Linked DNA regions of Homo sapiens. The protein of the gene in region 2 interacts with the protein of the main gene of each other region in a biochemical or structural test. Each region holds a gene or a part of one and is shown on either strand. Other genes may lie near its edges.

Evidence for each region. Proteins that work in one complex are often made in the same cells at the same time.
Region 1: the proteins of BRAP (region 2) and CDC14A form a complex in vitro, tested with the Homo sapiens proteins (one study listed by BioGRID).

Annotation. Positions count from the first base shown.
Region 1 is NC_000001.11:100,350,891-100,354,638, reverse strand, and holds the start of CDC14A (dual specificity protein phosphatase CDC14A), read right to left. Parts: upstream 2,134-3,748; 5' UTR 1,685-2,133; coding exon 1,636-1,684; intron 878-1,635; coding exon 787-877; intron 1-786. UniProt on the Homo sapiens protein: Dual-specificity phosphatase. Required for centrosome separation and productive cytokinesis during cell division. Dephosphorylates SIRT2 around early anaphase.
Region 2 is NC_000012.12:111,658,299-111,662,046, forward strand, and holds part of BRAP (BRCA1-associated protein), read right to left. Parts: intron 2,378-3,748; coding exon 2,302-2,377; intron 1,048-2,301; coding exon 909-1,047; intron 548-908; coding exon 438-547; intron 1-437. UniProt on the Homo sapiens protein: Negatively regulates MAP kinase activation by limiting the formation of Raf/MEK complexes probably by inactivation of the KSR1 scaffold protein.

The sequences.
Region 1 (3,748 bases), on a different chromosome or scaffold from region 2:
CTGATACTTTTACTGAATAAAGATTTATCTCTCTTCAATTAATGTTTTACTATGCCTGAAGTATTAAGATATCTTTTTCCTGTAGATCAGTGGTCTTTCACAGAAAACAGTTCCCTACTTTTATTTTACACTCTCAAATCCTAATCCCACAGAAGCAAAGTAATCAAAGAAAATAAATCAGCACTGCTATATCATTTCCTTAGAAGCAAAGAAAATAATATCAAAAAGTTTGGGGTACCCAAATAAAAGAATCAATAATATGTCAGATAAAATGTTAGTCATAAATGTGACTCTGATACAGCTCCCCGCAGTTAATGTGTCCCACTTTCTGAAAAAGAGCTGCACAAACAAAAACATCCTGAGATAGAACAGAAGTCTTGTAAACTATAAAGCTCAAGCACCTGTAATACATGCACTGCCCTGTACCCTATGGCCACTCCATAAATACTTAGTGACTGATTCACAGGCCAATTACTGAGTCTGGCAATGACAGTGTGTCTCCCTGGTCCTACTCTGGGGAATGTTAGGAATCTCCAGTTGCTGTTTGTTGTGGTGGTAGGAAGAACTAAAACAGATAGATGTCTAAAAGAACTGAAGTGTTGAAAGGTTCAAATTCTGTCAATTTTCTCTGAACTTCTCCCCAGGCACCTGAGTCTTAAAAAATTGATATTGTTACTCGTATCATTGGGGGGGAAATGAATAAAACTGCCATAAAAGTGCATAGTGTTTCCTCGTCAAAGAACAAGCTGAATGGCCAAGAGAAAAAAAAACAAAACATAAACTTACTTTTCATAGACCAGCTCCTCATCGATGGAGAAATAGTGGGTATTTACTGTGCTTTTTGGTCTATTCCTTAAAGTAGCAAAATATAACCGATCTGAAAGACAAGTTTAAAAGACAGAAAAAACATATGAGAAGTAGAGAAGTGGAAGTGAAGGTGGGTGGTAACATACGAAGGATCACAATTTAAAGACCCCATTAACACGTGGAATTCTTGCAGAAACCTCATCCCTCCCAGAAAGCTAGAGACTCAAGAGCACAACAGTTAGGCAAGAGGAGGACCTGACCGAGGAACTCAGCGGGGCTCAGAGCACCCACATTTCCCTTGTTTCAGGCCAGCAGAGTAGGCAGGAGCTGGGGGTACCCGCAGAACTGGAGGTGCAAGTTTGGTTCCCAAATCTCCAGACCTCAGCAGCTGCGAGAAGGGGAAGAAAGAGGTGAGCCTCCCGACGCAGCTTCGGAGATTTGAAAAAGAGGAAGGGAGAGAGACTTGGGGGGTGTGGTTGGGGGTGTCCCGAAAACCGAAGCCTGCGATGGTGGAGTAAAGGTGACCGGTGAGCATCCGGAGCAGGCTCCCCATGAGCTGCTGAGTGCCGGAGTACGGGCAGAAGCCGGTGCTGTCCCATTACGAGGCCGAGAGGCCATCCGAGGGAGCTGCAGAGGGAGCAAGGGACACAAGAAAGAGAAGCCGGAAGCAGGGGGTCCTCGGAGAAAGGAGAGTCCCTAGAGGGGACGAGAGCGCGCGCAGCGGCTGCAGGACACTGGCAGCCTCAGGAGAAGGTGGGGACAGTGGCGCGGGAAGTGAAGAGTTGGGGGCAAGAAAGCGTTGGAAGATGCGGGGCGGCTGCTCCTCACCTTTCATGAACTCACAAGCCCCGATTAGTTCCCCTGACTCCGCTGCCATCTTAAGCGAGATACGCACGGGGGAGGGCTGGGTCGTGGCCAGCTGAAGTCACTCGCCCCCGGGGGCTTCCCCACTGCCCAGGAGCCAGGAAGCTCACAGTCCCGAACAACAAGCCTGGCCGAGGGAGGCAGCAGGCGCCGAAGGCGGAGGCGGCTTCGGGGTCAGCGCGCCGGGCGCCCCGGGGACATTCCGAGGGGAACCCGAGCTCGCTCCGCGCGGGGCGCTCACGCCCCTGGCTGTGGCCGCTCCTATTTGGACTCGGCTGCTGCAGCTGCTGCTCCGCCGCCGCCGCGCCTGGGAAACGCAGACCAGCTCTCAGGGCAGGGCAAAGTCTTCCCCCGGCTTCCAAAGTGATCATGGAGGAGGAGACTTCTGGTCCCGATCGCGCCCGTGGCTACTCGAGCGGCAGCCGGGAGGACTTCAGTGCCCGCGGGCTGGCAGCAGCTGCTCCGGATCCTCCTTCGCCACCTCCTTTCAGCAGTTACTCTTCCTCCTCCTCCTCCCCCTGGGTCCGCCCCCAGACCTTCCTCCCCGCCCTCCCTCAGCCCCCTCCACTTTCACGACTCCGCGGCCATCCCTTAAAGGGACAGCCCCGCTCCTTTCTCCGCAGCAGCCCCAGTTACCAGGCGCCCCGCGGGTCACTAGGAGCCGGTTGCTAAGGCTTTGTTGCCGTCCACCAATTGCTGTTCAGGAAACGGGGCCCTCGGCCCAGGGGAGCGGGCGGGGCCTGTAGGCCAGAAACTTATGAATGAAACGGCGGGGTTGAGAGTGGACATCGCCAAAGGCGCTGTCGCGGCCTCGGAGGCTAGGATGTGCTGGCGCCCCCTTTCTTTTCTGCACCCTCTAAGTCTTGTCCCACTCCAGATTTCTTTTCTCTCTCTCTCTCATTCTCTTTCTTTCTCGCCCACTCACCCATGCTCTTCTAAACTCTTGTAGGGCGCGCGCGCGCGCACACACACACACACACACACACACACACACTCGTAAAAACCTCAGATCTCCGTGCCCTGCCTCGCCTCTAGCTAACATTTCAGCCACCCCCCACGCCCAACACTGAGGGGGTCTGCATCTTTATAAAAAATACAATTGAAAAAGAAGCACCAGCTCCTAGCTCACAGTACATGTATTGGTTTCCTCTACACATACCAGACTCTGATATAACTTGTACTTTGTTCTCACGGGACAAAAAGTTTCCCATCTGGTTCTCCACGCCCTCTCATCTGGGCCGCCAATGTGAGCGCAAAAGCATCACAGATGCCTAATCTTTACAGTGCTCCGGTCCCGGAGGGGCGGGGCGAGACCGCTGAGCCAGCCTGGGCGGGCGCGGAGGGAACAGGAGAGAGAGGAGAGTCCACTGGTCCAAGGAGGAAGGTTAACACAAAGGAATTTCTTTACATAGTCTCAGCTGAAGCGCTCCAGGCAGGAGTCCCGCTAAAAGAGGCCATTGACTTGTCTCTGCGAGGCTCTACGTACTGTTTGAACAACTTGAACGCTGGGCGTCCTAAGGCTGTACCTAATCAGAGTGCAGTCCCTTCCATACGAAAATGGCGCTACAGACCGACTATCCGAAGAGCATGCGCTCTGAGAGGTCTCTCCAGAAACAGCAAGAAACTTGTGGCGGCGTTTTCCTTCGCAGTCGCTTGTTGACCTCTAGGGAGAAAGGGGGCGCACCCGTGCAGAGCTGACTGAGGGAACCAGCCCTTCGAGGGCCAATTGCAGGTTTTGTTTGTGGTTTTTTTTTTTTTAATGTGTGTTTTGTTTTAGACAGGGTCTCGCTCTGTCACCCAGGCCGGAGTGCGGTGGCTCAATCTCTGCTCACTGCAATCTCCACCTCCCGAGTACAAGCGATTCTCGTGCCTCATTCTCCCAAATAGTTGGATCTACAGGCGTGCGCCACCACACCCGGCTAATTTTTGTATTTTTTGTAGAGACCGGGTTTTGCCATGTTGGCCAGGCTCGTCTCCAGTTCCTGAGCACAAGCAATCCGCCCTGCCTTGGCCTGCCACAGCGCTGGGATTACAGGCTGAGCCACCGCGCCAGGCCTCAAATTATTTTATTGAAAAA
Region 2 (3,748 bases):
AAACATTTTTTTTTTTTTTGAGACAGAGTTTCGCTCTTGTTGCCCAAGCTGGAGTGCAATGACCCGATCTCGGCTCACTGCAACCTCTGCTTCCCAGGTTCAAGCGATTCTCTGCTTCCCGGGTTCAAGCGATTCTCCTGCCTCAGCCTCCCGAGGAGCTGGGATTACAGGTGTGTGCCACCATGCCCAGCTAATTTTTTGCATTTTTAGTAGAAACAGGGTTTCACGTTAGCCAGGCTGGTCTTGAACTCCTGAACTCAGGTGATCCACCTGCCTCAGCCTCCCAAAGTGTTGGGATTACAGGCATAAGCCACTGCGCCCGGCCATGACCAAACTTTAAAAAAAAAATGTACATCCAGGTAAATGACAAATATTTCAAATTAGAATAGTAAAGAGCAGTAGAAACAGATAGAGTGATAACTCATTAAATCTCTTACCTCTAACTGTAAGGCATCTATTTTCTCTTCCTGGCAAGTATCCCCCTCACATTCATACTGTACTATTTTTCCATCTGTTTTACTTGCAACCAGTCGATGAACATAGTTATCTACAGAAAGAGTCAACAAAAGTGTGTTTCTTTAGAATGAAAAGGGTCTCTGTACACTTTTAACTCTGACAAAATTTTTTTTTCAGATCTAATTTAAATGCCTTACAATATTTCTTTAAAAGTGTCAAATCATTTGAATTTTAGAGGGGAGGGAGAAAGCAAGAATGGAAGTATTAACTCCCTTTATAATGTGTGATTCAAGACATTCCTAGAAAAATAGTGCCCTCAGGGAAACTGAGAATTTGGGTTTGCAACAGCTGTCAAAAGATGACATTTCAAGCTGGGAGGGAAAGTGAAGGCGTTGTGAAGGCAAAGTTTCCACACAGAATGAGTCCAAATTAGAAAAGAGAGTGGTATTCACCTCCAGCATAGTCCCAGACTCGATGGTTGGTAAGCTGCATGGCATACGTGTGCTGCGTTTCCTCAAAGTGCTTATAAGCATGTCGACTGACATACCGTCCACATCCTATGTGGCCGCATATTAAACAAATCCAAAGATTCTGCCGGAAGAGGTAAGATCTTAATTAGTTAAATAAAAATAAATGATCTGGCTGGGCGCGATGGCTCGGAGGCCGAGGCAGATGGATCACCTGAGGTCAGGAGTTCGAGACCAGCCTGGCCAACATGATGAAACCCCATCTCTACTAAAAATACAAATATTAGCTGGGCGTGGTGGCAGCTGCCTGTAATCCCAGCTACTCAGGAGGCTGAGGCAAGAGAATCGCTTGAACCCAGGAGGTGGAGGTTGCAGTGACCCGAAATCGTGCCACTGCACTCCAGCCTGGGTGATAAGAACAAGACTCTGTCTTAAAACAAACAAACAAACAAATAATCGATCCAGCTCACTCAGAGTGGGAAGGAACCTGAGACACTAGAAGACAGAATTGTTGGTTGGGCACAGTGGCTCACACCTGTAATCCCAGCATTTTGGGAGGCTGAGGCAGGAGTATCGCTTGAGCCTAGGAGTTTAAGACCAGCTTGGGCAACATAGCAAGACCCCAACTCTACAAAATGTTTTTTTTGTAGAAAAAACAAAAACAAAATTTTTTAGAAAAAACAAAAACAAAACAAAACAAAACCTACTAGGCCATGGTGGCATGCACCTGTGGTCCCAGCTGCTTGGGAAGATGAGATGGGAGGAAGGCTTGAGCCCAGGTATTTGAGGTTACAGTGAACTATGATCATGCCACTGCACTCCAGCCTGGGTAACAGAATGATACCCTGTCTCAAAAAAAAAAGAAAAAGAAAAAGAAAAAACTGTTTCTACAGGAGCCTGAGTGATTAAATGTATGTTTAAAACCCAACAATCAAGGATGCTTTTATGGGTCATTTTTTTTTTGCTGATTTCTAAGGAGCACTATGTGAACAGCAAGAAAAAAATTCACAATTCATCAGTAAAAGTCTAAGCCTTTCAAAAGTGCAAAGAAAAAAGGAATAAATTTAGCTCAGGAGTAACATAATTTGTGTATTCATATGTCTTGCCCAACCCTAGACAAAAAGAAAAAAAATTTTAAAGAATTTAGGCTGGGTGCAGTGGCTCACACTTGCAATCCCAGCACTATGGGTGGCTGAAGTGGAAGGACCGCTCGAGGCCAGGAGTTCGAGACCAGCCTGGGCAACACAGTAAGCCCTGTCTCTTAAAATAAAAAATAAAAAATAAATTAAAAATAAAGAACTTAAGTCATACCAGGCAGAAGAAAACTCATGACAATTAAAGCTGCATTCTTTGTTCTTTTCCATCACCCATTACTTACTTCCTGAACACCACACTCAAAACACTTATTTTCTTCTACTGGCTCGGGCGTTTGACAGTACCGGCAAACAGGACACCTATCCAGGACACCAAAAGATAATGGTGCAGGTTAAATATAAAAGACAGCTGTTACAGAACCCAAAAGTCAAACACTGGATTTTATATCCTCCTCCTCTTATATGCTATTTTTATCATAACTAAGGATATCACTTAAAATAAAATATACAAAATAAAAATATACAAAATCTTGATAAAACAGAGAACAGAGAAATTGGGATCTGCCTCATGTCCTTTTCCGCTCTTATGTCTAAAGCTTAGATGATCAAAGAGCTAAGTATTTACAGGTTACAATTAGGACTTCATTTCATGTCTGATTATTTATAATTTTTTTTTTTTTTTGAGACAGAGTCTTGCTCTGTTGCCTGGGCTGGAGTGCAGTGGTGCGATCTCAATTCACTGCAACCTCTGCCTCCCAGGTTCAAGCGATTCTCCTGCCTCAGCCTCCCGAGTAGCTGGGACTACAGGCATGCACCACCACACCCAGCTAATTATTGTATTTTTGGTAGAGACGGGGCTTCACCATGTTGGCCAGGATGGTCTCGATCTCTTGACTTCATGATCCACTGGCCTTGGCCTCCCAAAGTGCTTGGATTACAGGTGTGAGCCACAGCTCCCAGCTTGTTTTTTTTTTTTTTTTTGAGACAGAGTTTAGCTTTTGTTGCCCAGGCTGGAGTGCAACGGCATAGTATCAGCTCACTGCAACCTCAGCCTCCTAGGTTCAAGCAATTCTCCTGCCTCAGCCTCCTGAGTAGCTGGGACTACAGGCATGCGCCACCACGCCCAGCTAATTTTGTATTTTTAGTAGAGACGGGGTTTCTCCCTGTTGGTCAGGCTTGTCTCAAACTCCCAACCTCAGGTGATCTGCCTGCCTTGACCTCCCAAAGTACTGGGATTACAGGCGTCAGCCACCGTGCTCAGCCTATAATGTATTTTTACTCCAACAAACAACCTGCCTTATCCCCATTTCCCAAAGATTTAAATCATTCAAAAAGTACCCTTTCTTCTCCAGGTTGCTCCTAAGAATTGGATTTAAAATCTGTAGTAAAAAAAAAAGGTTTTTTTTTTTTTTGTGAGACAGAGTCCTGCTCTGTCACTCAGGCTAGAGTGCAGTGGCGCGATCTCAGCTCACTGCAGCCTCTGCCACCCAGGTTCAAATGATTCTCCTGCCTCAGCCTCCCAAGTAGCTGGGATTGTAGGCATGCACCCCCATGCCCAGCTAATTTTTGTATTTTTAGTGGGCATAGGGTTTCACCATATTGGCCATGCTGGCCTCCCAAAGTACTGGGATAACAGGCATGAGCCACCGCACCTGGCTAAACACAAAGGTGTTAATGTACTTATTGAAATGCACATGATATCTCACTGCACCGTGAACATCATGTGGAAGA